4 linked regions of the Homo sapiens genome follow. The protein of the gene in region 4 purifies or fractionates together with the protein of the main gene of each other region. This does not show direct contact. Each region holds a gene or a part of one and is shown on either strand. Other genes may lie near its edges.

Region 1 (8,419 bases), on a different chromosome or scaffold from region 4:
GTCCCAGCTACTCAGGAGGCTGAGGTGGGAAGATCACTTGAGCCCAGGTGGCCGAGGATGCAGTGAGCTGAGATCGTGCCACTGCACTCCAGCCTGGGTGACAGAGCAAGACCCTGTCTCCAAAAATAGAGAAGGAGGAGGAGGAAAAGGAGGAGAAGGAGAAAAAGAGGAAGAAGAAGAAGAGGAAATAGGGTGGGTATTTTATTCCCCAAACACCTCCTGCCACACAGAGGTAATCATTTCTACTAATGCTGCAGTCCCTGGGATGTAGTCTGGGAACGGCAGACCCCTATGGTTTCAGATTATCCCAAAGCTAAGAGAGAGATTGACGCCATCAAACTGAAGGTGGAGGCATGGGCAGGAAGCCTGTGGCTAAGAGACAGACATCATAAAGATGGGCTCTAAGTTAAAGAAACTGGGCTCCTCTAAATCTGGGCCTTTATCCTATGGAGTTGCCGGAGATCAGATTTACCAGCATCTGAGTTTTTATTTATTTATTTTTTTAATAGAGACAGGGTCTCATTGTATTGCCCAGGCTGTCCTTGAACTCCTGGGCTCAAGCAATCCTTCCACCTCAGCCTCCCAAAGTGCTGGGATTATAGGTGTGAGCCACCGTGCCCAGCCTCAAATGGGTTTTTAAAGTTTTATTGCCAAGGAAATGTTGATGGCCTACAAACAGGAGCCTAGGATCCCTGGCCTCAACAGAAGTGTTCAGGTGCCCCTCCACACACCTCCTGTAACCATGCCCACAGGAAGAGGCTGCCACTTCACCCCCAGGCAGGTCAGCCATGGAACGCGCTGCTGCAAAGCAGGACCAGAGGCTCCCAGACTGGCTCACTCGGAAACCCACTCCTCCACTAGCAAGAGAAAGGATACCCTTTAAACCAGTGACCACTGTATGTAGTTTTCCCTTCTCCTCTTTCTCAAGTGGCAATTTGTAACCTACAGTGCCTCAGTTTCCTCAACTGTAAAGCGGAGGATATTTGTATTTACCACATGGGATTCATGTGAGGATTAAATAATTTAAATAAAAAATGCTTAGAATAATTCCTGGGAAAAAAAAAAGTGCTCAGTTAGATTTGGGTGTCGCTCTGCTAGGTCAGCCATCCTCCTTCTCCTCCATCAGTGTGTCCTGAGTGTGTAGAAAATGGTTGTCCATTTATTTCATTTTTCTTGAGTTGGGGTCTTGCACTGTCTGCCCAGGCTGGAGTGCAGTGGTGCAATCAGATCTCACTGCAGCCCCAAACTCCTGGGCCCAAGCAATCCTCCTGCCTCAGCCTCCCAAGTAGCTGGGACTAGAGGCATGCACCACTGTATCGGCTAATTTCTTTTATTTCTATTTTTTGTAGAGACAGGATTTCACTGTTGCCCAGGCTGGTCTCAAATTCCTGGCCCCAAGCAATCCTCCCACCTCAGGCTCCCAAGTCACTTCACCCATTTCCTCCCAGTCCTGGCACAGCCCTGCATACGTAACTGATACATAGAACTTAGATAACAAAAAGTGACTGAAAACTACTTTATTTGAAGACATTTTCTTCTATAGTTCTAAACACAAAAGGAATGCTGTTATAGTGGGTATTTCATAGGCATTCTTGTATTCAAATGAATCACATAATGTTTACACTTTTAAGCTAGACTTGAAATTGAAGACTTAATACAACCTTTTAACAAAGAAAGTATCAGTCATATCAAAACATAACTATTCATTCTACAGATTATCACTTTCCCTAAAATGACTACTAGATATGAAAACATTGCAGGGACAGCTCAAGTGCCCCATTCTTAAGGGTTTTTTTTAATAGGAAAAATGACAACGTAAATCACATTTTCCTTTTCTTTACTAGTAATGAACTATGGCAATCCATTTGAGAAAGCACCAGCCAACCGTACAAGTCATTTCAGCACCCTTTGCTCTTCAAAACTGACCATCTTTTATATTTAATGCTTCCTGTATGAATAAAAATGGTTATGTCAAGTACAGACGTCAGCAACGTGTCAGTTGGTGTGAATTTATGATGTGTTCCTAAGTCAACAGAGAAAATAAAAAAAATCTCTCATGTGAATAAAATCTAAGGATGAAAAACTATCCTTTGATAATTATCACAAGGCAAAATCAACCACCTTTTCATCAGTACTAGTGTGGAATGGAAATTTCTTTATTAATACTTTTTATGGGAATGTTTTAAAGGCATAGGTATAAATGCACATGCAATCAGCTTGCCCCTCTTAGATACTAACTTCCCCAGCTTCACTCCTCCTTTTCACTGGAACAAGCTGCTGAATCCCTAACTCCAAAGTCTGCAGTGCTTGGTGAGCATTTTTAAATAAAGATTATATGTGATTTTCACTTTTTCACAAAAATGAAGTACAGAGAAGACTGAAAAGCAGTGAGAAAAAAATCATAGAGCAAAAAACTAAAACACAAGATGTGATGTTCAAATTTAAAAGAAAAACAAAACTGGTTCGTGATGATTGTTAGTAAATCACAAAAACAAAGGACGGACAGGGCCAAGACCGAAGGGACCACCAGACCACCGAGCCCCAATGTGCCAGACAAAAGTGGGCATCTTTGAGAAGGACGCCCTGGTGAAGACAATTACAGTGAACCTCTTTATAAGGCCGTAAGCTCTTCAAGGTCATGGGCCGTGACTTATTTATGTCTGTATTCTGTTCTTAGCATTGTCTTGCACATGACAGACACTCAGTATTTCTGGTAACCACAGAACTGGAGCTCAATCAGCTCACTGCTTTCAAAGTCATTTTGGTTGGTGTCTACCCACTTAATTCTTTCACTCCTCTGTCTAAGGCAGGGATGGCAAATAGCCTTCATTTCACTCTGATGGACTGGGAATAGATGTCTGGAAGCACCAATCTGACATGGATTCTAAGACCAAATCCTGGCACAGAGGACAGGAATGCTGCACTCATTCATAATGCCTCCTTAAAAGAGCGGTGGCACAGGTGTTATATATTCCCCATTCCTGGTCTAGGAAAAAGGCATCCAACACCTACTTATATTCCTTTTACATTGCTATGCTGCCTCTTGAGTGATCTGCATTAAGCCACTGTTCGTTAAATGCTGGTTGATCAGGAAGACCAAGGCCTTTCCTCTCAATTTACGTCTTTGGCCAAACAGGTAGGGTCAGAACTTCACCTGGAAATCTGAAAACACATCATCCACAATGCTCAATAGGCAACAGTCCATTGAAAGAGAACAGGTATTTACTTGATTACTCCCTTTGTAGAGAAAGAATTTTGCCCATCTCAATGGTGTGTAGCTTTCATTGATATCTAAGGCATTTGGAATTACTTAGGATCTTGGTGTTAAAAAAAAAAAAATGGCAGGGTTAAATTCTCTTTGGTTCTCATTCTAATCTTAAGACTTCTGTTTGTTTCTTCCTGGTACCCATAACCTTCTCAGCACTTCGTCGTTGTGACTTAACCAATACTGTTGAAATAATCAACTCTTTCACACATTCATCAGAAAACCTTTTAAAGGATGCTAAGGGGAGAGGCCTCTGAAAATAAGTGGGTTGAAAGGAAAGCCAGAGAGAATAACAGGAAGAACCAACCTTCTAACAACCCACACACAGGACTCTCTACCATTCAGACTGCTATCTATAAAATAGGGTGCTTCTGGTCGGGGGGCTGCCACCCCAGGTCCTCCAAGCAACCCTTTTCCCCATAGTGGGAGGTCAGCATCCCTCAGAAGCATCTCAGGAAAAAATGATAAAGCATTTAGAGAATTGGGAAGAAAATAGAGGGATACTATCAAAGAGTAAAGGACAGTCCTGGGGGATGAAGGGGGATTTTCTTTTTTCTTTTTTTTTTTTTGGAGACAGAGTCTTGCACTGTCGCCCAGGCTGGAGTGCAATGGCACAATCTCGGCTCACTGCAACCTCCGCCTGAAGGGAGATTTTCAAAGCAACATTGCCTCTATCATAGGTAGTCTTCAATGTAATACTGGCACCAACAAGAGAACCGAGCTAAATTAAAACTACCCTCAAAATGTCATCACAGCTGATGTGCACAGCAGGAAGGACGATGTCACAAAATGCACAGATCTGTTCCTATTGCACATTCCACCTTTCCCACGTACTGCTGGCAGCCCAGAATAACCAAAATCTTTTTAGATGTCTGTCTTAAAGAGAGCTATAATATGCAAACATACACACACACACACACACACACCCCCACACACACACACAACCTCAAACCTGGTTTATAAAAGAGCTTTGTGGATCAGAGTACACCCTCACTTGGTCCAAGAATCTAATTGTCAACATTAGGCAAATAGACCCAATGAATGTAACCAGGAAGAGAATTAACTGGTTGGCTGGAATATTGTATTTGATATGATATGCTTATTTGCAAACTAATCTCCAACTGTTTGTCCAGTACTAATTCAACTGACTCATCTTCTAAATGTATAGGACAAAGCCTTTAAAAAGTTAAGCTCTTCAGCAACGAAAAGTTAACACCATCTAAAATAAATAGATTTTAAAATATATGTAATGAAATTACAGGTCACTGGAAATTCAATTCTACAATGAATATAAATTAACATTAAAATCTATTAAGTACTATTCCTGGGAAGATTTTGGTTCAGAGGTTTTATTTTTTTAAGGGCTTAATATTTGGGAATAAATGGGCATAGCTTAGAAACCCTTACAAAGTTGTAAGTAGACTAGAGGTAAGATTATTTGGTGACAAGATACAAAGATCTGTTTCTATGTCCAAAATAATGGCTTACCTCATTTTAGTTAATAGAAGTATTCCCAAAAAGTTGTGCAAATAGGCTTTTTATAACTGGACGCTTATTTTAAGTATACTAGAGGCCATGGTTGTAAAGAAAACCTGTAGTCACTCCTCTAATAAACTGAAGAACTCTAAGTGATTAGCCCCTGTCCTACATCTGCACAGTGGACGGCATACTCCAGGCACTCATAAGTGTTTGTTGAATGCATGAATTCGCTCTGACAGTTTTTTTTTTCCCCTACAGGACTTTCTTAAAGTGAGGCACATGCTAACTGAAATGGTTCTGCCCGCTGTTACTGCAGAAAGATGGAATCCAGCTCACAGTTTAACTGATGCCATTACAAAATATCAGATAATTTCAGAGTGTTTTCAATCAAAATAAAATTTCCATAAGTATGAGTGTATGTATTTTTGAGGAATGTTGATCTATGATTGGCAGAAGCTTTTATTGTTAACTCACTCACTGAAAACAACTGCTTGAGCTGAATTCTATTTCAATTAACAACCAAGGCAAGTAAAGCACTTTACCTAACTTCAGAAATACCACCAGAAACCATTCCACTTCTGTAACAGCTTCTTCCCCTCACTCCAGCACAAATATTTAAATGCTGTCCTTACCTTAGTCCACAAAAGCAAAACATGAATTACAAAGCTAAGATTAAATTAGAAAGCTGCCGACTTAAATATGACAAAGTTTTTTTAGCCTTAAAATAAGAACTAAGTCAAATACATTCAACAAAAGTAACTCTTAAAGGCAAATTTTTTTCTTATTTGGTGTTTTCTTCCCTTCCCATTTAAATTTAAGACTCAATTTTTAATAATATTCATATGTCCATTTTTCTAAATAATATATCCTCTTTAAAACAATACAGAATGCCTAGCAGTGCAACCTATGTGTCCACATAAATATGCAACCTGCCACATAAATAAAATAAGAGGTTTTATCAGTCTATTTATCCAGCATTTGTAACTGCAAAAAAGGCTGGAAAAATAGCTAAGAATATTTTTATGCAAGTTTTGGGGAGGACTGAACACTGGTAAGGATTCACTGTAGGGCTCCATCATTATAAGTTTCCTAAAAAGTAGTGTGCAAACAAAATATCTGAACACAGAACCCTAAACATACTAGATGTATGTGTGGGTATGGGTGATGGAGAAGAGAGAATGAATATGTTAATATGAATGCTTGTCAAGGACACTGATAAGAAAAAGAAAACCTCTCACTTAAGGTGCTAATGATATGTCAAGGGACCTAAATACAACAGATTTTAAAATCATCTTTACCATTTGTCCCAATTATTGACTTTGGCCCTTTACCACACAGACACAATGAATCTACATTTTGATGATCCGTCATTGGCCCAAGAGTATCATGTTTGGAGATGGATTTGCTCCCATAATTTAAAAATCAATAATTTAAAAAATAACAAAGTTGGTCTCTTTTTTCCACCAGTTTTCAAGTAATTAGTTCAAGTAAGCTTATTTACAGCTGCTACTGTATATATGTGACCTACTTTAACCCTTCTTTACCCTTTAGGAATTGGTCTCCCTTGGAATGGGACACCACATTTTAAAAAAAACTTGAACCAGGTTTTTTTCATCTACCAATTCAATTCAGTCATGTTTCTGCTTTATTGGGCAGATAAAGAGAAGAAACCAGCAAGTTATGTCCAAAAGCTGGAAAACGCCGAAATGCTTCCCAACTATCTGAAAAGATGTTGTACTTGAGGAACACTCGGTGTTCCAAGCTGGTCGACAGGGTGACGTCTCTGCTCATGATGTAGATGCCGTCGTTATGGAGCGCACAAGTCAAGTTAAGACCCGATTTGGACGTGTTCTCCTTGAGGTAGAGCCACTGGCGGGTGACGGTGTTGTAGGACTGCACGGTGAGCATGTCCTCGCTCTGGCTGCTCCTGCGGTTGGGCCCCAGCTCGTGGAGACACCCCCCCACGATGTAGATGGTCTCTTCCACAGACACCATCTGCTGCTTGCGAATGTGGACGTCACATGTTTCAAAGAGCGTCCACATGTCGGAAGAGGGGCAGTACTGCAAAATGTTCATGTTCCGGTCTGAAAGAAAGAAAGACAAGTGATGACACCGCCTCCACTAACACCACTAGGCAAGTCTGTACAGAAATGTCTACCTCTGCCTGCATAATTTGGTAACAAAGAGAAAAAACTCTTTCAGAAAAAGCACAAGTTAGAAAAACAGTTTTCAAAGTGGCTGGGAAGAGATATATTTAGATCCATCCGCACTCACCTCCCACTCCCAAACGTCTCTTCCGTGGGAGACTCAGACTGGATAAAACCAGGAAAAAGCGCAGCTCTGACTTTCACACAGCCCCTCCTCCCTGGTATCCCCACACCTTTGAACCACCAGGTCAGTGTAAAAAAAGTAAGTGCCTCAGAACCCTCATCAATAGCTACAAAATTACCGACTACTTAATACAGAAGCCAGGCTGGGCAGCAAGTAGATTATTCTTGATAGCTGATCCTAAGAAACATGACAAGTAGCAACACAGGATCTCCAGAGGCTGTCTAGTGAAAAGGACACAACGTTACAAGTCAGGAGAAAGGCAGCAAAGTCTCACCTGCGGCCTTCTAACAAGCCACAGAACCACTTGGCAATTCAGTTTCCAGTTTTTTTTTTGTTTTTTTTTAAAGACAGGATCTTTACCATGCCTAGCCTTAGTTTCCCCATTATATCACCAGAGAGACACTAACAAAGGTCCTCCCCTCTCCCTTTTCCCATTTCCCATGTCCCTCACAAGATGACAGTTGTAGCGTAGATAAGATCAACGTCTAGATAAAAGGTTGCTCTGACATTTTTAATTAATAATGATTTTCGGCCAAGCATGGTGTCTCATGCCTGTAATCCCAACTCTTTGGGTGGGCTGAAGCAGGAGGATCACTTGAGCCTAGGGGTTCGAGACCAGCCTGGGCAATATGGTGAGACCTCCTGTCTCTAAAAAAAATAAAAAATTAGCCAGGCATGGTGGTGTGCACCTATGGTACCAGCTGCTACTTGGAAGGCTGAGGTGGGAGGATCACTTTAGCATGGTAGGGTGAGGCTGCAGTGAGCTGTGATCATGTCACTGCATTCCAGCCAGGGTGACAGAGTGAGATCCTGTTCTCTCAAAAAAAAAAGTAATTTTCTTTAAGGAAAAATATGGCCTCGTCTCTTTTTGAAAAACGCTTGTGAAATTTAGAATATCTAGTTTTGTTTTTCTTGTTTTTAATTGTTCTCTTTTCTTTTCTCCTCTAGGAAAGAATAAACAAGTATTTTAGCCTCAGCAGAAAAAACAAATGCTCTGAGTTATAAACAGAATGAACTTTGTTGTTGTTTCTAAACAAACAAATCCTATCCATGAAGGAGACAGCTCAGCTTGGGAACTGGCAGACGACTAAAGCCTACAGCATTTTGACGGCTGCAGGCGCTTGGTAAGAGAAGACAGCTCGTTTTCTCAGAAGTTTCATACCTCTTACAGTCCTTTCTTCTGAGAGGGACCCACTCATAGTTAGCAATGCTTAAAGAGCACCCTCCACAGCCACATCTGATACAAACTGAAGTATCTCCTAAGAGAGCCAAGTCCTGTGCGCGCACATGTCCTGATGCCTGGAGAAATCTCAGAATTGTAAGCCACGGCATTAGGAAACTGTC
Region 2 (9,111 bases), on a different chromosome or scaffold from region 4:
CCCTGGGTTGGTTCCCTGCTCCTGCCTCTGTCTTTAATCCCTTCATCAGCCTTCTTTCCCATGTGTCCTTGTTTCTGCTGTGGATTCCTGCCCCCTCTGCCCTTGTTCCAGAGGTCTTTCCTGCCCTCCCTCTCCACTTCCTCCTTGCATGGTTTACTGAATGGTTTTTCTGGGCCAGCTTCTTTGCTGGGAAAAGCCACATGCAGACAGACATGTTCTCTGCCCCCATGGGGCCTGTGGGTTGACCTTAGCTACAGAATCAGACGAGAATATAAAATCATGAGGGAGACTGAGTTTACTGATGAGGCCCCAGGGATAGGTGACTGTGATGTTTGGGTGTGCACCTGGGAAGTGTAAGCAGAGCCCTTGGGGTGAGTGGATATCCCTGGATGAGGAAGAAGGAAGAGCGCATGGGCAGGACGGAGGGCCTCCTGATGCGCTGCCGGTGTTTACAGGGCGTCAGTTCTCTAGATGACCGCATGGAGCCCCATTTGACAGAAGAGAAAGCTGAGGTGCAAAAGATCCAGCCCGCCCAGGGTGGCCTTGCCAGGAAGTGCTGAGCCAGGTTGTGGGGCTGCGATCTGCCACTGCATATACTCTGCCTCACTGAGCAGGGGCCCCAGCAGGAAGGAGGCAGCCTGTTTGAGGAACTGAAACATGGATGGGGTTACTTTGAGACCTAGAGGTTAACAAGGGACAGAGCCTTCTGGGCCACAGTTAGGAACTCATCTTTGACCCTGAGGGCTCTGGGCAGGCCATGTCCCATTTGTGTTTCCAGAGGTCCTCTTCCCCTCGCAGATGCGGTGACCTGCCAGCACCTGCCGCAGCCTTCGTCCGGGAGTCGCCCCATCTCTCCACGCATCGGGGCCCTGTGCCCCTTGCTGCTGCAGCCGGGCACCATGTCGACCTCGTCCTTGAGGCGCCAGATGAAGAACATCGTCCACAACTACTCAGAGGCGGAGATCAAGGTTCGAGAGGCCACGAGCAATGACCCCTGGGGCCCATCCAGCTCCCTCATGTCAGAGATTGCCGACCTCACCTACAACGTTGTCGCCTTCTCGGAGATCATGAGCATGATCTGGAAGCGGCTCAATGACCATGGCAAGAACTGGCGTCACGTTTACAAGGTCAGCATCCTGCTCTCCTCCCCGGGCAGGTGCAGGGGCTCAGGTGGGAGGACAGGAGCCCGTGTTGTGCACCCTGCCTGGGATGGCATCCCGGTTCTCAAGAGGAACTGGAGAAGAGTAAAATCTCTCTTTTTGTTTAATGAAGGCAACGAATATAAGGCTAAGAAGTTTGGAGCCTTGTGGTTAAAATCTGTTTTTGAGTGAGTGGTGCGTACGTAAGATTCATGTGCTGAGGAGGCCTGAGAGGGCCCACGGTGCCCATCTCTTCTGTGTGCCCAGACACCCAGTTCCTTTCCTCACAGCAGCCAAGTTTCCGCTCTGGGCCCCATCTATGAATGCCTCTCAGGCAGGTGTGTGCTCCCCGTGGCACAGGCGATGCCACGCTGGGGATGAACGCTGTCGTGCCTGTGAGCAGGACTCAGCGACTGGGTTTTCAGTTTGCTGCTCTTGGGGTCCAGGGGCCTTGGCATCCCCACCTTTGGTCTTTGGTTACTGTGTTCCTCGTGTTACGGCAAAGTGGCCAAGGACATGGGCTGGGGCCGGGTTATACTCCCAGTGGCGGGATCTCAGGCTCGTCCCTGAATCTCCCTCTGTGAGGGCCCATGGAGCCGATTCACGTCTGACTTGGGGCAGGGGCTGGTGAGTGTTAGACTCCTGCTGTTGCGGTCCCGTCGGCAAGCATCTGCAGAAGGCCCGCTCTGGGTGTCTTGGTGCACCAGACCAACAAGGCCCCACCCTCATGCGCTTAGACCTGGGCCTGCTCTGGCGGAGGTCCCTGTCCTTGCTGATCTTTGAGACTTCTGCCTAGGTGAGGGTGGTTCCCTCCACTCACAGATGAGGAGGCTGAGGCCTGGAGCGTTGCAGCACTTACACATGGGAGCAGGGGTTGAGGCTCGTTTCCTGTGACTCGTTTTCATACCCATCCCGACACACCAGGATTGGGTTGAGTCATAGATTGAATCAGTTATTGGTCATTTATTGTGAAGGGCTGGGTGGCGTTTGTTTAGTTGAGAATCTTGGAAAACCCTGGAGGTGCAGGTGAGCCTCTCTGGAGGCAACGAGGAGGGATGGGGCTGGAGGGGTGGGTGTGCAGAGGGGATGAATCCAGAGGGGCCCCAGACGCACATCCTTCCTGGTCAGTGGCTGGGGTGATGCTGCTGGGGGCAGACACAGAGTGGCCTGTGGGCAGGGCTGGCAGGTGCCAAGGCCTGAGAGTCTGCTGGGGAGCATGTGGTGCTGGCAGCCAGGGTGGACGGCAGGACAGGGCAGTGCAGGAGAGGGGACGTGGCCTCCAGTGCCAGGCGGGGCTTGGGCTGCTTTACTGAGGTGTAATTTGCACACAGTGAAACCCAGCCTTTCGAGATAGAGTTCTCTGGATTCTGACAGATGCACATATTTCATAACTGTCATCACAGTCAAGGCATAGAAGGTTTTTGTCACCCCCAAGACCTCCCCTATGGTTTTTGCAGCCCCTCTGGGACTCTCCCCAGGCCTGGCTGTTCCTGCTGTATCCGCCATCCCTGCAGCATCTCTTGATTCTTGGGACTCTCCTTTCTATGATCCCCACAGCAGAGCCTGTAGGATCCCCAGCCCATGTGGCTGAGGACACGGGGTTCCCGCTCCACCCTGAACCACTGGTTCCTCATGCTGGGGTGGGGTTCAGCCTCAGTTCCCCGGGGGAGGGTTGATGGCGTCTGGAAACCTGCTTTGGTTGCTGCTTGTGCTGCCTGCTGGACACTGTCCTGAGAGCAGCTTTGTGAGGTCAGCACGTGTCACTGTTGTCCCTGCTGCGGCATGCGCCGATAGCTGAGCATAGGCACAGGGCAGGGGTCCAGGAGGGGGTCCCTGGGTCCACGTCTAGCCAGCGCCTCCCTTCCTGGCTGACCACTTCTATCCCGCAGTCCCCTTCTGGAAGTACGGGTGATGAGGACAACCCCACAGGCCCAGAGGCCCTGAGCCACTGTGAAGCTGCTACACCCCCTTTGGCCCTCTCCGGAGCCCTCTGTGCTGACCTGTTCTGGCATGAGGGCGAGTCCTCTTGCTTCTCACCATCCCTTCGCCACATGGTCTCATCTTGTCACTTCAGCCCCAGGTGGTGGGTTGTGCAGGAGCAGTCTTTCCACTTTGATGGATGGGGAAACTGAGGCCCAGAGACGGGGGAGGTGGCCTGCCGAGGCTCGTGGGGGAGCTGGGGCTTGGGCCCATCTGTTCAGAGCCCAGGCTGTCCCACCCTGTGGCCCTGCTGGCTGGCACTTTGTGGGCCTTATTGTCCCCGTGGAGAAGGAGGGTGAGCTGTGGGGGCCTTGCAGGCCTGGCTCTGCACGGCCTCCCTGCATGGCCTTGGGGGTGAGTATTGGTGAGTAAGGGCCGGCGTTTATTTGGTACCTTGTACGTGTAGCACACACAGGTTCTCATGAAATCCACGGTTACCCTGTAAAGGAAGTTCTTTTTCTCCTTTTCCTCTGTTTTCCAGATGAGGGAACTGAGACATAAAGGAGCTCAGCTCTACCTCGCAGGAGGTGGTAGAGCCAAGAGGAGCCCCGAGCCCACCCTCTGGGCCCTGCACTGCCACCTCACTTCTGAGGAATGCAGGGTCTCAGTCTTGGCTTTAAACCAGGGGTCAGCAAAGTACAGCCCACTGGTGAAATCCCACTCACAGCCTGTGTTTGTAAATAAAGTTTTATTGGAACACAGCCAGGCCCATTCATCTGTGGCTGTGAAGTAGTTGAGACAGAGAGTATATGGCCTGAAAAACTGAAATGTTTTTCATCTGGCTCCTTACAGAAATGTTTGCTGATCCCTGTTTTAAACTTTATTTCTGCATTGCAGGATGTCCTTGATAAAGCTGTCTTTAACATTAAGAAGGACTATCATTTTATGCAGTTGCCCACTGCTTTTTGGTTGTTTTCAGAAAAGCAAAGGAGAAATAATGACTTATTTTGCAAACTTTTTTTTTTTTTAACTTTTTTAGAGACAAAGTGTTGCTCTGTAGCCCAGGCTGGAATCCAGCAGTACAGTCATAGCTCACTGAGCCTTGACCTCCTGGGCTCCAAGCATGGTTGAGGAATAGCTGGGACCACAGGCACACACCACCATGCCCGGCTAATTTTAAGATATTTTAAATTTTTTTGTAGAGATGGCAGTCTCACTGTGTTGCCCAGGCTGGTCTTGAACTCCTGGGCTCAAGCGATCCTCTTGCCTTGGCTTCCCAAAGGGCTGGGATTATAGTCATGAGCCACTACACCTGGCCCACTTGCTCACTTCTAAAATAAGGTTTTAAATTTTTCATTAAGAAGTTGTATACTAAGCACATCATGAATGTATAACACAGCTGTTACGCATGTGGACACCTGTGTAGCCTTCACCTAGAGGGAGGTAGAGGATGCATTCAGCCTTCCAGGTTTCCTCAGGAGACCTGTCTCCCACAGCACCGTGTCTGATTTCTGTCTGCCAAGACTGTTCTTGAGCTTTATATATGTGGAGTCACACGCGTGGTCTTTTGTGTCTGGCTTCTTTTGCTCACCATCACCATCAGGTCAGCAAGGTTGACCGTGCTGTTGCATAAAGCAGTTGTTCATTTATTTTGAGAAAGTCTCACTGTTGCCCAGGCTGGAGTGCGTTGACATGTTCTCGGCTCACTGTAGCCTCTGCCTCCCGGGCTTAAGCAATCCTCCTGCCACAGCCTCCCAAGTAGCAGGGATGACACGCATGTGCCACCACGCCTAGCTAATTTTTTGTTATTTTATTTATTTATTTTTTTAGAGCTGGGGTTTTGCCATGTCACCCACGATGGTCTTGAACTCCTGGACTCAAGCGATCCACCGACTTTAGCCTCTCAAAGCACTGGGGTTACAGGATTTTGCCACTGCACCCGATTTTATATATTTATTTAATTATTGTTTCTTATTTATTTATTTATGAGACGGAGTCTCGCTGTGTTGCCCAGGCTGGAGTGCAGTGGCACCACCTCGGCTCACTGCAACTTCTGCCTCCCAGGTTCAAGCAATTCTCCTGCCTTAGCCTCCCGAGTAGCTGGGATTACAGGTACTTGCCACCACGCCTGGCTAATTTTTGTATTTTTAGTAGAGATGGGGTTTCACCATATTGGCCAGGCTGGTCTCGAACTTCTGACCTCGTGATCCGCCCGCCTTGGCCTCCCAAAGTGCTGGGATTACAGGTGTGAGCCACCGCGCCCAGCCTGTTTTTTGTTTTTTCTTGAAATGGAGTTTCGCTCTTGTTGCCCAAGCTGGAGTGCAGTGGTGCTATCTTGGCTCACTGCAACCTCTGCCTCCCAAGATCAAGCGATTCTCCTGCCTCAGCCTCCTGAGTAGCTGGGATTACAGGCGCATGCCACAATGCCTGGCTAATTTTTTGTATTTTTAGTAGAGATGGTGTTTCACCATGTTGGCCAGGCTGGTCTCAAACTCCTGACCTTGTGATCTGCCCGCCTTGGCCTCTCAAAATGGTAAGATTATAGGTGGGAGCCACCATGCCCGGCCTTATTTATTTATTTTTAAATGGAGTCTCACTCTGTCTCCCAGGCTGGAGTACAGTGGCGTGCTCTTGGCTCACTATCACCTCTGCCTCCCTGATCCACGGGATCCTCCCACCTCAGCCTCCTGAGTAGCTGGGATTACAGGTGTGCACCGCCACACCTGGCCAGTTGTTTTGTGTTTTTAGTAGAAACAGGTTTCATCATGTTGGCCAGGCTGGTCTCGAACCCCTGACCTCGGGTGGTCCACCTGCCTCAGCCTCCCATAGTGCCGGGATTATAGGCGTGAGCCACCACACCTGGCCTCATTTCTCTTTTATTTCAGTGTATGTGGTAGTCCCGCTGTGTGAGCGTGCCATAGTTGATGTATGCATTTCACTGTGCGTGGGTATTCGCACTATTTCCTGCTTCACAATCTTTTTAGCTGCGATACCAAAGTCCAGAGAGCTCTGGAAACGAAAGTGTTTCATGATCCGTTCGGCACAAAGTCTGACCCAGACTGAAGTGAGGTCGTTCACATGGTGTCTGTTGGTCCCACAGTAGTGTGGCTGTTGGCACGACTCTGCCCAGCGCGTTCTCTTATGTGTTGTATGTGCGTTATTTTCCTGGTCTGAACTCAGGAAAATTCTGAATTCCAAAACACAAGGGCCCCAGGAGTTGTGGACCTGGGACTGCCTCTTGGCTTGGGGTGTGATCAGGCATAGCAATGGCTTACCTGCTTTCCTTTCTTTCGTGTAAATACCTTGAGGGCCGGTTAAAGACTAATCTCTGATTACACTGTAAATACTGTTAACACACCTTTGAAAGGCCTTGCCAGAGCTAGGTCCAGCTGCCTCAGAGGGTGAGGAGATATGAATGGCCCTGGCATCTTTCCTGGCAGATTTCTCCTTGGTTCAGACGGAGCTTAGCTGTGATAGCTGACTCTTCCCCTAGGAGCCCTGGGTGGGTTTCTGTGGCTCTGTGAAGGCCCTGGAATCCCCTGCAGAATCAAAGTTGTGCCTTTTTTTGAGGTCAGTGACCAAGACACCCCCTGCAGAGCCTTAAGGGGGCCATGACTCCTCAAGCCCAGGACTTGAGCCTGAGCTAGGGAGAGCCTCAGAGACCTTGGTCCCCCCGCCCCCACTATTAATTTCAACTTGTTGAAAGGGAGTTTGTTTTCGTATTATAAAATACAAACATACCAAAGGGTGCAGATTGAACGATAATGTTCCCTCCGCCCTGTCCTTTTGCTCCTGGTGGTGTGGAACCTGGGTGCCCCTCCCAAGAGAGCCCGGGCCTACACAGGCCCTTGCGTGGATCTCTTCCCTTCTTGCAGAGGTGATAAACTACTGCTCCAGGCTGTTAGTACCAGCGTGAGGTTTTACAGTCAGAAATACACATTTCAAACTAGTACTAAGACCCCCTTCATTGTGATTTAACTAATGTGGTTTTCTTGGCCATGTTACTTTAGATTTTAGTTGTAAAGAAATAGACAGGGCTCCAGGATGCCAGGCGATGCCCATGGCGGCTGTGGTGCCTGTAGCTGCCATTTCCTCTTTTATTTGGATTGAGATGGAGCTCCTACACTGTGCAGCCCCCTTCATATCGCACAGTTCAGTGGCCTTCGGCCCATTCACAGTGCTGGGCGACCACCTCTGTCCAGCTCCAGAACGTCTTCATTGCCCCAGAAGGAAAACCCATAGCCTTCAGGTGGTCCCTCTCCATCCCTCCCTCCACCCCTGGCAACCCACAATCCACTCCGTCTCTCTGGATTTGCCCATTCTGGATGATTCACGTCGATGGAACCGTAGGCTGTGTGGCGTTCTGTGCTGGCGTCTGTCGCTGAGCGCAGTACCTCCGCGGCTGGTCCCCGTCACAGCGTGGGTCTGTGTTCATTCCTTTGCATGGCCGTGTCGTATTCTGTGGGGACAGATGTGTGTCCACCCACTGGCGACAGGTGGGTTGTGGGCCTTGCGCCCAGTCGGCCGCCCCAGAGCCCGCGTCGCAGGCAGTCTCTGGCCCGCCTTGTGCCCGGCGTGCTGACCGGGCATCCCCGTGCCCGCTCGCAGGCCATGACGCTGATGGAGTACCTCATCAAGACCGGCTCGGAGCGCGTGTCGCAGCAGTGCAAGGAGAACATGTACGCCGTGCAGACGCTGAAGGACTTCCAGTACGTGGACCGCGACGGCAAGGACCAGGGCGTGAACGTGCGTGAGAAAGCTAAGCAGCTGGTGGCCCTGCTGCGCGACGAGGACCGGCTGCGGGAAGAGCGGGCGCACGCGCTCAAGACCAAGGAAAAGCTGGCACAGACCGCCACGGGTGAGTCCCTCCCTGCGGCCCCTGACGGCCTAGAGTCTGTCCTCCGCCTACTGCGGCTCCCGGCACCCGGCCGCCCACTGCTTTCTCTCCCAGCCAGGAGGGACCGCGGCATCCCCCTTTGCTTCTCCTCACCTGGGCCCCTTGCTCTGGTCTCACTTGGGCCCTTTTTTTCCCTTAGCACCTCCCATGCAGCAGCTCTGGGACCCTTCCTGCCTCTTGCCTCGTGCCCCAGGGCAGGCCTAGAATTGGGAACTTTTATTCCGCTCCCCCATAGGCTCAGGGCCTGAGGGTGATCAGTGCTGGGGACAGGGCTCTGAGGGGACACGCACAGTGACCCCCGAGGGTGCTGTCCTTCTCTCTGCGCTGAGATGAGGGGAACATCGGAGAGGCAGAGGGGGGCCTGGAAGAGGCACAGAAGGAAGGCCAGAGCCAGGGCCTGCAGGTTGCACCAGGCATCTGGGCCTGTGTTAGGAGCCTTGACAGTGCCTTCTGGAGGTGGAGGACTCAGTCTGGTGGGTGGTGACCAGCACCGAAAACAAAACTTGAAATAGTGCATCCCACATCGTCAAGCCAAGATCTGTCCCACGAAACATTTCCAGTTATGTGATGGGTGTGTGGGTCTCGGACTGTTCCAGGAAGTGTGGTCTGTGTTGGTCGGGGGCTCACAGCCGTGAAGAGGCTAGTCCGGCTGCTCAGGACTGGGAGGGAGGCTGGAGAATGTCTGCCAGGCTCTTCTGCTCTCCAGGAAGAGTGGAGGTGCCTCAGTTAGTGGGGATACGTGGGATGGGGAGGGGCTGCTAGAGCACTGCCCTGGAGGTGGAGGTGGGTCAGCCAGGCCGGTGCAGACAGGAGGAAGGGCCTGTGGCCCTCGTGGGGTCCGGCTCGAGGGACTGGACTTGTTTGGGGAAGTCTAGGCCTTCTGTTTGGACGGGTCTCATTTGGGATCACCTTTCAGCACCCACGGGGAGACATGGGTGTGACGGGGTGTGTGCGACCCTGCCTGGGACTCCAGAGTAGGGACCCACGAGCCAGTAGATGGGCGTGAACGCAGAGAGAGAGTGAAGTGGAGGGAAGGAAGCCGGTGTGGCGTGGGAGTGCTCAGAGCCAGGGACAACAGGAGGGAGTGTAGGCGGCAGAGAGGGGCTGGTCAGCTCGAGGCAGGCAGGCAGGCAGGTGGGTGGCGGGGTTGGGGTG
Region 3 (9,802 bases), on a different chromosome or scaffold from region 4:
TTTCAGCAAAGAGGAATACCCACCCCACCCCATACCAAGGAAAACCATGCAGAAAGTTGATGCTACAAGTCAGAACTTCACAACCCTTGGTATTATACCTCTTCAAAAGGGAAAGGTAAATGGAAATAGAACTGAAATACTTCTGTGTTGACACCTCACTTTGTAAAAACCACAAGAATTTAACATAAGTGTCACTGTTTTCCAGGAAACTACTATTCCTGTATTCTAAATGTCAGCTAGCGACTGAATGCAGGATTTCAAAAATCCACGCCATTTACCTAAAGCTTTGCTGAACTTTAGAAGGATAAGACTAAAATAATAACTAAACAATAAAACATCTAAAATACATATTCTATCTATACATACAGCATAATGATAGGAAAGGAGAAAATGGGCCTGATTTGTCATTAAAGCCACTGATATACTTCAGAAGATCTAAAACAAGAAGCTGGCTTTAGTATGTTTTCCATTCATATTATCAGGAATTAGTCCTAACATAAAGGCTTGCTTCAACTTGACAAAATACCGGATGCATGCACAAATCACAAGTATCTGCTACAAAAATTTAACATATTATGGCAAGACAGACTTTCGTATTTACTAGCCATTCTAATCACTTGGAATTTCAGAAAAAAATGTCTGACAACAAATCTCTTCATCAAGAAGTCAAGGCACAAACTAAAACGACTATTTTCACTCTTCATCTGGTAGTAAACATCCAAAAGTGAACTTTAACTTTGTTCAGTTATCACTCTTTAATCAACAAGAACCAGGGTACAGCAGAGCTAGGTTCTTCAGATCCAAAAGAAACAAACTCTCAAATGTTCACCTCAGAGATTAGCAACAGAGAACCAATCACAACGGGCACAATGCTAAAAACAGTATAATCACATTATAATAAACATTATGAAACAACCACAGTTTCAGCCACTTGATTTTGTTCCCCATTCCCAAATGGACCATATATCAAAGTCTGGGATCACTCTTAATGAAAAAATTATTCTGACACTGATGGAGATGTGTACTTTTTATAACGCATTACTCAATTTTTCCATTAACCTCCATTCCGTACTCAAAGGCAGCAAATCAGAAGACATTTCTAAATAAGATATTCCTCCTGTCAAAAATATTAAGTTATGTTTCAATCCCCCCAAATGCCAACAAAAATGTTGCTACCTTCATTTTCACTTCAGAGCAAAATTATACTTCTAACCTAAACAACCACATTCACTCTGTTTTTGAGTCTTAAAAGCTGGCTTTAAACTTAATTAAATTTTGTGCAAACCAAAAGGTATATGGGTGTGGTAGTAAAATCTGATAAAACTGTAGTTTAGATAAAATTATCTTTTCTGTTTAGTTGAAAACATTTAACAATATTCCTTTACTCCATGAACATTTACTATTAAGCACTTGTGGGCCAGACAAAAGATATAAAAGTGGACATCATCAGTCTCTGCATTTTAGGGAGGGACATCTAAAAGCATCTTTTGTGCAACCAACTACTGACACTTGGTTCTTCCTACAACATCTACAGAAGAAAACATACATTCATACAATGACAGAATGGCTCTCTGCAAAATGGAGTAAAAACTATCAACACTGTCACTGGATTCCAGCACCTGGAACACACTGGCCCACAACATCAAGTTTCACACCTAAAGACTGTACTAACAACTCCCAAACTCTCAATACTCAATCATCAAAACATTTGACGTGTCAAAGAAGGTGAAAGAAGCCCAAAGAGTACTGGTATTAGCATGTAACAATACGTTGCAAGTAACCACACAATTATTTCTAAAGCTTCACATTTTTCATCTAACAGATTTGAACATAAAGAAAATGAAAATTATACATTACAATCCATAAGCAAAGTAATCACATTTAATCGAGCATATATAAAAATGTATTCCCTGTTTCATTAAAAATCTGTCCAATAATATATACTAAGCACATCTTCATTGTTTTGTATAAACACGCCAAACATTTCACTTTCTTCATAAATTACCATAACGTTATTTGAACCACCTGTAACAGTTCTTCCCAACTTTTTATACTCTTTGAAAATGTCTGCACACTTTCCACTAAATCCAGAAATCCTCCATTCTTATCAAAACTGCCAAATTTCAAAAACAAGTACAACCAGTCTTGTATTGTAGTTCTATAATTTAAAAAACAAGATTTCCCTATGTGTCCAGACTTGAGGGATTTTTCTCGACTGCAAATGCTCTGAGATGCATTAACAATATACACTAGTTAACAAGGTCCCAGACAATTCTTGTTGCTAAGACTGCATTTTGCAAAAATTACACCATTTCAAACCATTCAAGCAAGAAGCTCTAAAATACTGCAGTCACAAGCCTAGCCTCTCCCTTCAACAAACCTTCAGTTGCCATCACACTTTTTTCCAGTGGGTTATACTGACTCTATTATTGAATAATATAAAACGGTCCCTACCAACTTCTTCAATTTATATTAGGTTATCTCTGAGAATCCTGGAGCCAAGGAGGGTTTTAGGGCCCAGAAATCTCTTAAAGTCTGCAATTCTCAGCATGACACCACGCAGATGAGTAAATGTTTAGCACTTAATACTGAGTAACCCTCACAAGAGCCCCTCAGATTTGTCACTATAAAGCACACGTTGGAGGCACACAAAAAGCCCGTACGTTTACAACCTAGCAGCTAAGCCTGCTGCACTGGCGTCCAACCCCGTCACTAACCTGTAGATCCTCAAAGTCCCTCCCACCACCCAATTCACGTGGCTGCAAACTAATGCAGCCAAGCTTCAGAGAAACTCAATTAACTCTCCATCAAAAGCACCCACCCTCCGCAGCCCACTGGATCTCGTCCTCCTGAAATGCCACAGGATCCTCTCCCGAGGGAGCCGTAAATGTGCTGCTCACAGCAGCCCCTTCCCTACTGGGGGACCAAAGGCCTGGCATCTTACTACAATTCTCAGAGCCTCAGGAGGCGTACTCACCCCACCCCCTCACCTCCTAGCTTCAGACGCCGGCTTCTCAAAACTGCTACACCCTCGAGTAAAGCCCCTCCCCAGCAATGGACCTCGGAGGCATTTCACTGCAAACCCCTCCACCTTCAGGCCACGAAGGCGGCCGGTTGTGACACTTCCTTTCTGAACTCACAGGAGTGTACCGACTACAGCTTCCTCCCCACAGGTGTGACCTGGGTCCCCTTTTGCTGGTAGGCCACAAAGGCCTCCTTTCCATTTCGGGTTGAAGGAGTGTCCTCACTACGATTATCTCCCCACCTCCAGGCACAGAGATGTAGTTATAACCTCTGCTTCACTGGGGGAGACAAGAAATCCTCCGTACTCGGGATGTAGGCGTGTTTTTACTGCAGTCCCCGTTAGCTCGCAGGCCGCTGAGCCAGCCAGCTCTGGCCTGCCCCCTCTCAGACCACGGGGGAGTCCTCGCTATGGCCTCGTCCCCACTTCGGTACGCAGGCTCATCCTCTTGCGTCCTCCTTGCATCCTCTCAGATCTCAGAGGCCTAAGTGGCATCCCACTCCCCCTGCAGCCCTGCCTCGACCCTTTGTGTGGGGCGCTAGTTGCCGCGGGCTCGAAGGCCTCCGAAGGCCCCGCCCCGGGCCACCAAGGGGCACCACGAGCCCCGCACAGCCCCACCCGTTCAGGGGCTGCGGGAGTCTTACCGGGGAAAGCTGCGCGGCACCAGAACCCAGACCCCGAATTACCCCCCGCGCGAGTGCCTCCGCCCCGCGGCCGACAGCCCCAGCCCGAACGGCTTCCCGGAGCCCAACGCAGCCACCACCTCCTTCGCCGCTTCACAAAATGGCCGTCGGCCCGCTCAGCGGCTCCGCGTTCCAGAAGGGGGAGGAACGGCGTGGTTGACGTCAAGGGGCCGCGCAAGCGCGCTGACGGTCTCGGGCGATCTCCCGGAAGTTACTGGGTTTTGTGCTAAGAGGGGGATATTCAGTCCCTGCTTGCGACTGTTGGCGCACAGGACCGACCTTGGGCTAGTGGCCCTGGCGGGTGGGCTGGGTATGAGTGTCTAGCTTGGCCCTTCACTGCAAGACTGTGCAAATTGCTTCACGTCTTCCAGTTTCCGCGGAAGGAGCGAATTGTGCTTACCTCTAAGTTTTTTGAGGATTAAATGGACCACAACGTGGTGGCTAGTTATTATATCCTGACAAAACAGCCAAAACCTGATTCTTTTTTCCCATTTAAGAGTTTATACAGGCCGGGGGCCGGGCGCGGTGGCTCACGCCTGTAATCCCAGCACTTTGGGAGGCCGAGGCGGGCGGATCACGAGGTCGGGAGATCGAGACCATCCTGGCTAACACGGTGAAACCCCGTCTCTTCTAAAAAATACAAAAAATTAGCCGGGCGTGGTGGCGGGCACCTGTAGTCCCAGCTACTCGGGAGGCTGAGGCAGGAGAATAGCGTGAACCTGGGAGGCGGAGCTTGCAGTGAGCCGAGATTGCGCCACTGCACTCCGGCCTGGGCGAAAGAGCAAGACTCCATCTCAAAAAAAAAAAAAAAAAAAAAAAAAGTTTATACAGGCCGAGCGCGGTGGCTCACGCCTATAATCCCAGCACTTTGGGAGTCCGAGAAGGGCGGATCATGAGGTCAGGAGTTCGAGACCGGTCTGGCCAACAAGGCAAAACCCAGCCTCTACTAAAAATACAAAAACTAGCTGGGTGTGGTGGCGGTGCTTGTGGTCCCAGCTACTTGGGAGGCTGAGGCAGGAGAATCGCTTGAACCCGGGAGGTGGAGGTTGCAGTGAGCCCAGATGGCGCCATTGCACTCCACCCTGGATGACAAAAGCGAAACTTCGTCTCAGAAAAAAAAACAAAAAAAGAGTTTTAATCTAGGGCAGGGCGCAGTGGCTCACGCCTGTAATCCCAGCATTTTGGGAAGCCGAGGCGGGCGGATTACCTGAGGTCAGGGGTTCAAGACCAGCATGGCCAACATGGCGAAACCTCGTCTCTACTAAAAATACAAACATTAGCTGGGCGTGCTGGCTGGCGCCTGTGGTCCCAGCTACCAGGGTGGCTGAGGCAGGAGAATCGCCTGAATCCGGGAGGTGGCGGTTACAGTGAGCCAAGATAACGCCATAGCACTCCAGCCTAGGCGACAGAGCAAGATTCCGTCTCAAAAAAAAAAAAAAAATTAAATCCATCGTGACCCCTCCACGGCTTCACTATAGTATTATTTTATTATAGAAAAAGCTATTCTCTGGCTGGGCGTGGTGGCTTACGCCTGTAATCCCAGCACTTTGGGAAGCCGAGGTGGGAGGATCACGAGGTCAGGGGATGGAGACCATCAGGAGAGCGAGACTACATCTCAAAAAAAAAAAAAAAGAAAGCTGTTCTCAAGCCGCTTTGGGCCTAGCCCCCCGAACTTCATGCCCCTGCTAATTAAAAGCTGGATGTGGTGGCTTAAGTCTGTAGTCCTAGCTACTCGGGAGTTAGAGGCAGGAGGATCCCTTGAGCCCAGGAGTCCGAGGCTGCAGTGAGCTATGATTGCATCACTGCACTTTAGCTCAGGTAACAAGAGCAAGACCCTATCACTTAAAAAAAAGAAAAAAAAGGTTGAAATTATCACAATTCCAACAACCTTTCGGGATTTCTATGGCAGACTGGACTGGTGCTAGCCCAGTATGCCAAAAACAGCAAGTTGGAAAACCAGGCCACACTGTTAAACTAAACCTATGCTTTATAGGTTTTTATAGGTTTGCTCTGTGTAGGTAAAACATAGTCCATTAAAAACAAAACCTACTAAATGCAATGTAGCATCCAGGGTTGGATCCTGGAACAGAAAAAAGACAGGAAAACTGGTGAAAGCTGAATAAAATCTGAAGTTTAGGCCGGGCATAGTGCCTCACACCTGTAATCCCAGCATTTTGGGAGGCCAAGAGGCAAGAGGATTGCTTCAAGACCAGCCTGAGCAACACAGGCCCAGTCTCTATAAAAAAATCTTTAATAATTTTAGAAAATCACGTTTCATTAATACTAATATACCAATGTTAACCTCTAAGTTTTGACAAATGTACCATAGTTTTCTTTTGTTGTTTTTTTTTTTTTTTTTTGAGACAGAGTCTCACTCTGTCATCTAGGCTGGAGTGCAGTGGCACAATCTCAGCTAACTGCAACCTCCACCTCCAGGTTCAAGCAATTCTCCTGCCTCAGCCTCCCAAGTAGCTGGGACTACAGGTGCGTGACACCACGCCCGGCTAATTTTTTGTATTTTTAGTAGAGACGGGGGTTTCACCGTGTTAGCCAGGATGGTTTCCATCTCCTGACCTCGTGATCCACCTCCCTCCGCCTCCCAAAGTGCTGGGATTACAGGCATGAGCCACCGCGCCTGGCCTTGTTTTTTGAGACGGAGTCTTGCTCTGTTGCTTAGGCTGGAGTGTGGTGGCACCATCCCGGCTCACTGCCACCTCGGCTCACTGCTACTTCTGCCTCCAGGGTTCAAGCTATTCTTGTGCCTCAGCCTCCCAAGTGGCTGGGATTACAGGCACCCACCACCATGCCCAGCTAATTTTTGTATTTTTAGTAGAGACAGGGTTTCGCCATGTTGGCCAGGCTGGTCTCAAACTCCTGACCTCACGTGATCTGCCTACCTCAGCCTCCCAAAGTTCTGGGATTACAGGCATGAGCCACAGCACCCAGCCTATTGTTGTTTTTGAGACAGGGTCTCACTCTGTCGCTCAGGCTTGAATACAGTGGTGCGATCAAGGCTCACTGCAACCTTGATCTCACGGGCTGAAGCGATCCTCCCACCTCAGCCTCCCAAATAGCTTGGACTACAGGTGGGCACCACCACGCCTAGATAATTTTTGTATTTTTTTGTAGAGTAAAGGTTTTGCCATGTTGCCCAGGCTAGTCTTGAATTCCTGAGCTCAAGCAATCCATCCACCTTCGCCTCCCAAAGTACTGGGATTACAGGTGTGACCCACCACACCCAGCCAAATTAGCATAGTTTTATGTAAGACTTTTTAATTAGAGGAAAACTGGTAATAGATCTACAACTCTACTATCTTTGCAACTTTTCAGTAAATCTAAAATTATTCTAAGTAAAAAAGATATTTTTCAACAAGAAAAATTCTATAATTTCATCTCCTCCTTCCACTGTCCATCTACATTTACCAAACTTTAGCCCAGTGGCTTTCAAACTTTCCTGTCCCCCTGCTACTGGCAAGTATGAAAAGCAATTAAACTTTTTTGACCATTATCCACAATAAGAAATACATTTATAACCTGGTATACAAATTCAAATATATCATCAAAATATATTCTTAAAATATGCATAAATGTACTCTAACATACTATCTCCTTTTTTAAGTACTGGTAACTACCCACCTATGGGTTCAGACCCACAAATGAAAAGCTCTAGTTACAATGGCCTTCTCTTGGTTTCTAAAGTATAATACTTTGTGCTTTATCACACTTCAGGCCCTTAGCTCTTGCCATTCCTTCTCACCTCTCATTTCTAGATTAGCGAGCTCTTCATATTTATAAGCACTACCTCCTCAGAAAAACTTTCCTCAAACACCCAGCATGGTAGGTTTTCCCTGCTATGTCCTCTTACCACTTAATTCTTTCATAGCACTTATCACAATCTATAACATTGTTTATTTGTTTAATTATTTTCCATCTCTCCACTAAAATTTAAAACTCAGTGAGGGCAGGGTCTTTTTTGGTCCTGTTAACCAGTGTATTCCTAATACCCAGAACAAATCTGGCTCCTGGCAGGCATTCAAATAATTCTTAAATGAAGAGATACAAAAGCCCACTGAGTCATTTATGCAAATCAGATGGAGTGGCGGTCTTCTCCACAATTCCCAAGTACAGCTTCCACTTTTCCCTCAACCTCTCATAAAGTCACAGAGTAAATAGAAGGTGAGTTTATTTCTCCAGTCTTGAAATTAACAATTTTCAAGAAAACAAATTATTAGAATAACTGGTGGAGTCACAGACATATTTCTAGCTCCATTAGGTCAAAGGAAAGGAAAGAGGACAAGGGTAGAAAGGAGACAAGCCCTCTAAGAAACTGTCCATTCAGTCTGTCTGCAGTCAATATGAAGAGATAGCCTTTGGAGCTACAGAAAATATTACATTGAAGTGGATTATGCTTGCTGTTAAAGAAGCTGGTCCAGCCGAGCAGCAGCAGAAGACGAAGACTCAAATGTCCATGTAGAGCATCATGGTCCCTGACCAAAGAGACTTCTTCTGGTTCCTCTTGCTCTCCTCACCAAGAGCACAGATGTGCCCAGCAGCAATATGACAGCAAATGTCTCTATGGCTTCGGGATGAAAATGTCCACACACTTTAAGACCCGAGAAGAAATGGGGAGTGCTCCACACCCAAGGAACTGAAGCTAGGGAAAGACAGTTTTCTTGTGTTTCTGTCATAGAGGTGGACTGATGCTGAAGTCAACTGGTCTATACCAATCTAGAGCATCCACTAGGTGTAACAAGGTGTCTGGTTGTGCACGGGTTGGTGAGGCAGGAGGGGCCAGACCAGCACAAAGTCAGGGCCCTATTCTTCTAGTGTTGGGTCCACTTGATGCTCTTGAGGTCAATGCCATCCTGAACCATCTCCCAGAGAGGGCTGCCAAAGAGAAGAGGCATTAAATGAGTGAGGGCTTAGATAGGAAGTCGACAACATTGGCCCCAAGGCTCTGAGCAATGGCTTGCCTCCTTCTGTCCCTGTCTGTCCTCTGCCTCTTGCCCTGGTAGACCCTAACACAGGTGGTTAAGGTATCCTGAGCTCTCCAGCTCCCTGTAAGTCCTTGTCAGCTCTCCTGAGAGCTCTCCCCAACTGCTAACAGGAATAACTAGGTTCCTCAGGCTCAATTGCAGTGGGGCCCTGAGCCAATGGACACCAAACATGGTCATATTCTTGAAGCTTTCATCCCACTGGTAAGAGGCTATGGCCATGGTTTCCCTTGGAGGAACCAAGACCCTTGAGACTTGTATAAACATCTAGTTTAAGCCTCTCTTCATATGACATGTATAAGCAGCTCGTTTCAGCCCACCACATATTACCCGCTTTTCAGCATTTGTTTCTTGGTTTTGTTCTAGTTCCCAGTTAGGGGTGGAACTTAACCCTACATCATCTTGGTATGCTGTACCCTTACCCAGTTCTTGCCCGTTTCATCTCCCCAGAGTTGGCCTGTGCTTCCAATATCCCTGGGTCTAATCCAAAAGAATTCCTTGGATCTTAGACCTGAGCATCCCATCTCACACAAGAGCTGCTGCTAAGAAATCTCTGCTAAGCTCTGATCGATCCCCAAGCAGAAGCTTGGATATCTTGGATAATGTTCCCAGACCAGATATTACTTCAGTGTGCTATGAATATGGGATTTTACAGTTTAGATTTCACCAGGTAATTTTATCAAATTTCATTATATTCTTGACTTGTCCCTCTTCTATATACTAAACATTCCCAGAATGCCTTTCTATTCATGAGATTTTCCATGGCCCTTAAAGTTAGCCATCTCCTTCCTGTCCTTCCTCTTTAGGGAAGACCACTTATTATTATAGGCTCACAAAATAAGACTCTGAGAGCTAATAGGACCAGGCTGCATTCAGTTTGTAAAGGGTCAGAAGGAATAGGGTGCAGATGCCGAAGCCACATAGATAGGAAACAAAAGGCTTTGCTGGCCACGTGGTCAGTAGAAATGCCTTGTGAGTATACCACAGAATACCAGAAAGTGAGGACAAAGGAAGGGTCCTGCAGTTGAGCAAGCTATAGACACTTAAGCAATACAGCTAGACCCTACAAAGAAAAATCCAGAACACAGAAAGGCCTGGGAGAG
Region 4 (3,807 bases):
GTGCGTGCTCACCCGGCCAGTGGTCTGTGTGTGCATGTGTCCGATGTGTCTGTGGTACGCCTCCACATCAGTGCCCACCCAGGGGCATGGGGCCCCCTGCACCTGTGTCCTGTAGCCTGCCTGGCCTTCCTGTGGGCCCCAGCCTTCTTGTCTGAGAAGTGGGTGAAGCGGGAGTGAGGACGGGCTCTGGGCCTTCCCCAGGTCTAGGGGCTGTGGGATGTTCGTCACCGGGTCTCAGACCATGGCCTGACCACAGTCCCATCATCTCATCCTGGGCAGCTCCCTGGACCCAGAGAGCCAAGAAAGGGGAGCCGGTGAAAGGTCATGTGTGGGCCGGGCGTGGTGGCTCGCACCTGTAATCCAGCAATTTGGGAGGCCGAGGCGGGTGGAACTCCTGAGCCTGACCAACATGGAGAAACCCCATCTCTACTAAAAATACAAAATTAGCCGGGAGTGGTGGTGCATGCCTGTAATCCCAGCCACTCAGGAGGCTGAGGCAGGAGAATTGCTTGAACCTGGAAGGCGGAGGTTGCGGTGAGACGAGATCGTGCTATTGCACTCCAGCCTGGGCAACAAGAGCAAAACTCCAACTCAAAAAAAAAAAAAAATAAAAAAAAATAAAAAAAATAAAAGAAAGGTCACGTGTGGAAGCTGTACCCCATCCGGGGCAACACTGCCTCCATCCACTTACCCGGAAAGCCTGACTTCCTCCTGACCCTGGAATGGCTGACATTAAGCCCCAGGAGGAGGACTTGACCTCTGACCCCTACCCTCTCTCTCTGGCCTCAGGTGAGGGAGATTCTGGGCCGCTGCACCTGCCCTGACCAGTTTCCCATGATCAAGGTCTCAGAGGGGAAGTACCGTGTGGGGGACTCGAGCCTGCTCATCTTTGTGCGGGTAAGGGCCTGGGGCCGCCCCAGCGGGCAGCAGCCAAGGTGGTGGGCTGCGGGGCGCCCGGGGCACAGCCGTGACCTGCCCACACCTGCAGGTGCTGAGGAGCCACGTGATGGTGCGAGTGGGTGGTGGCTGGGACACGCTGGAGCATTACCTGGACAAGCACGACCCGTGCCGCTGCTCCTCCACTGGTCAGTGCCAGGGTGGGGCTGGGGCTGGACGGGCAGGGGACTTGCTTCTGTGGCTCTGTCCCTCACATGCTGCCTGTCCTCTCTCCCCGCAGCTCATCGCCCACCCCAGCCGAGGGTCTGCACCTTTTCTCCACAGAGGGTGTCGCCCACCACCAGTCCCCGCCCTGCTAGCCCAGTCCCTGGGAGTGAGCGCCGGGGCTCCCGGCCTGAGATGACTCCCGTTAGCTTACGAAGCACAAAGGAGGGGCCCGAGACCCCACCCAGGTGAGATGCAGGAGGACGAGGAGTGAGGGGTCCAGAGGGTGGGGGGGCGTCAGCCCTGGCCTGCATGATGGGTTGCCTGTGCGCCAGAGTGACTCACACCCTGGGAAAAGTTCCCGTGGGTGGGGGCGGGCCTGGCTTCCCATCTCCATGGCAACCCAACCAAACCAACAACACAGCTGGGGCGGGCCCTGTGGCTGGGCGGCAGCCAGTCCAGCTCTTGCTTCCTCTGGCCCGTCCTGGGAAGGGGGGTGTCTAGAGCCCAGGAAACTTCTTCTTCCGTGGCTTTTGGGGCCCTGGGCCGCTGGAGGAAGCTGCTCACTTCTCCCTGGAAGTCCCCAGGACAGACCGATGCCCCTGACAGCCCCGTCCACCAGCCACATACCCTGCTGTTCCTCTCCCTGCCTGTTCTGCATGCCAGTCCTTCCGTGGTACCCCATCTGTCTCTATTGTCCCCCTGCCCCAGGCCCCGGGATCAGCTGCCCCCCCATCCCCGCTCCCGCCGCTACTCCGGGGACAGTGACTCCTCAGCCTCCTCCGCCCAGAGCGGCCCCCTTGGTACCCGCAGTGATGACACAGGCACTGGCCCCCGGAGGGAGCGACCCAGCCGGCGGCTGACCACAGGCACCCCGGCCTCTCCGAGACGGCCTCCTGCCCTGCGCAGCCAGTCCCGAGACCGGCTGGATCGCGGCCGGCCCCGGGGGGCCCCAGGAGGCAGGGGAGCCCAGCTGTCGGTCCCCAGCCCTGCCCGGCGGGCCCGGAGCCAGAGCCGCGAGGAGCAGGCTGTGCTGCTTGTGCGCAGGGATCGAGACGGGCAGCACTCATGGGTGCCAAGGGGCAGGGGCAGTGGGGGCTCGGGCAGGAGCACCCCCCAGACTCCCCGTGCCCGCAGCCCTGCAGCACCCCGGCTTTCCCGGGTCTCCAGCCCCAGTCCAGAGTTGGGCACCACACCGGCCAGCATCTTCCGCACACCCCTGCAGCTCGACCCGCAGCAGGAGCAGCAGCTGTTCCGGCGCCTGGAAGAGGAGTTCCTGGCCAATGCCCGGGCCCTTGAGGCTGTTGCTAGCGTGACCCCCACTGGACCAGCCCCTGACCCAGCTCGGGCCCCCGACCCTCCAGCTCCTGACTCTGCCTATTGTTCCTCCAGTTCCTCCTCTTCGTCCCTCAGCGTCCTGGGTGGCAAATGTGGCCAACCTGGGGACTCTGGCCGGACGGCCAATGGGCTGCCTGGGCCCCGAAGCCAAGCCCTTTCCAGCTCCTCCGATGAAGGCAGCCCCTGCCCTGGCATGGGGGGGCCACTAGATGCACCTGGGAGCCCCCTGGCTTGCACTGAACCCTCGAGGACCTGGGCACGGGGTCGGATGGACACACAGCCAGACCGTAAACCCTCACGTATCCCCACGCCTCGGGGCCCCCGCCGCCCCTCCGGACCCGCAGAGCTGGGGACATGGCATGCCCTGCACTCAGTCACCCCGAGGGCTGAGCCAGATTCCTGGATGTGATGGACCAGCTCAGCTGTCCCCAGACCCCATCCCTTCTCCTTTTCCTTTGTGGCCTTAACCCTTCTGCATCAGGGAGCCCCCTCTGCCTCTTGAGTACCAGACCTCATGGGACCAGACCCCTTGGGACCACATGGCACAATGGGACCTCTGTTGTACATTCCGGTTGGGGGATGAGCGTTGCTATTTAATTACTAATATTATTGAATGCCTTAGAGGAGGCCGGGCGAGCCCGGTGTTCTGAAGACCTGTGGCCCAGCAGAGCCTCTGACAGTAAAGTTTTGCTCCAGCCACCTGTCTGTTTCTTGGGGACTCCACCTTGGGGCCATTCAGACCCTTTCGAGGACCCTGGAGTTAACTGCCTGGAGGCCAAGCCTGGCAACTCTGACCTCTAGGCTTAAGGCGTTATCCCGCCCAGCCCAGAAATCCCAGGCGCACTCAAATTATTTTCCCTTTTATTATCCCGTGGTAGGTGTGGCATAAAGAATATGTCCAGTGAAGCTCCAGGAGCAGGCTGCGTGTTTCCAGTCAAGTTCATAGCCAAGTCCTTTCCATCCAATGGGATTGTGACCCATTGAGGTCCCAGAAAGGACTGGTCATCTCCAATGGAGCTTGGGACCTGGTTGGGTCCAATGAGGTTCAAAAGGGGGCCAGTCGCTTAGGAGACTGGGTTGGAGCTTTCCTCATCCAATCAGGGCGGAGACTTCCCTGTCCAGTCCCAGTGAAGTTGGGCGATCCCGTCCAATCCAGGTCCCTGATTGTCCCAGTCACAAGGTGGGGCCCATGGATGGCACTGTCCGATCGGGTCACATGAGGCTGCAGCGCGCGGGATGCAGCGCCCCCTGCAGGCGCAGGGCCGGGTGTGCAGGGCGCGCGCGCACCAGAGCGCAGCGCAGCAGCTCGCGGAAGAGACGCAGCACGTGCCAGTTGTACTTGGCGGAGCACTCGAGGTAGCCGCAGCG

What was found.
Region 1: the proteins of GAS2L1 (region 4) and KLHL42 purify together in Homo sapiens (affinity purification with mass spectrometry; 3 studies listed by BioGRID and IntAct, with this or other methods). This does not show direct contact.
Region 2: the proteins of GAS2L1 (region 4) and EPN1 purify together in Homo sapiens (affinity purification with mass spectrometry; 3 studies listed by BioGRID and IntAct, with this or other methods). This does not show direct contact.
Region 3: the proteins of GAS2L1 (region 4) and RBM12 purify together in Homo sapiens (affinity purification with mass spectrometry; 3 studies listed by BioGRID and IntAct, with this or other methods). This does not show direct contact.

The regions. Positions count from the first base shown.
Region 1 is NC_000012.12:27,796,124-27,804,542, reverse strand, and holds the end of KLHL42 (kelch-like protein 42), read right to left. Parts: intron 7,297-8,419; coding exon of another isoform or gene 7,253-7,296; exon of another isoform or gene 6,829-7,252; coding exon 6,377-6,828; 3' UTR 1,503-6,376; downstream 1-1,502. UniProt on the Homo sapiens protein: Substrate-specific adapter of a BCR (BTB-CUL3-RBX1) E3 ubiquitin-protein ligase complex required for mitotic progression and cytokinesis. The BCR(KLHL42) E3 ubiquitin ligase complex mediates the ubiquitination and subsequent degradation of KATNA1.
Region 2 is NC_000019.10:55,677,729-55,686,839, forward strand, and holds part of EPN1 (epsin-1), read left to right. Parts: coding exon of another isoform or gene 1-6; intron 7-798; coding exon of another isoform or gene 799-899; coding exon 900-1,127; intron 1,128-7,667; coding exon 7,668-7,917; intron 7,918-9,111. UniProt on the Homo sapiens protein: Binds to membranes enriched in phosphatidylinositol 4,5-bisphosphate (PtdIns(4,5)P2). Modifies membrane curvature and facilitates the formation of clathrin-coated invaginations. Regulates receptor-mediated endocytosis.
Region 3 is NC_000020.11:35,661,094-35,670,895, forward strand, and holds the start of RBM12 (RNA-binding protein 12), read right to left. Parts: upstream 3,808-9,802; 5' UTR 3,667-3,807; intron 1-3,666. Other genes in the region: NFS1 (cysteine desulfurase isoform a precursor), read right to left, coding at 8,529-8,592.
Region 4 is NC_000022.11:29,309,650-29,313,456, forward strand, and holds the end of GAS2L1 (GAS2-like protein 1), read left to right. Parts: intron 1-789; coding exon 790-897; intron 898-988; coding exon 989-1,085; intron 1,086-1,177; coding exon 1,178-1,349; intron 1,350-1,812; coding exon 1,813-2,848; 3' UTR 2,849-3,138; downstream 3,139-3,807. Other genes in the region: RASL10A (ras-like protein family member 10A), read right to left, coding at 3,652-3,807. UniProt on the Homo sapiens protein: Involved in the cross-linking of microtubules and microfilaments. Regulates microtubule dynamics and stability by interacting with microtubule plus-end tracking proteins, such as MAPRE1, to regulate microtubule growth along actin stress fibers.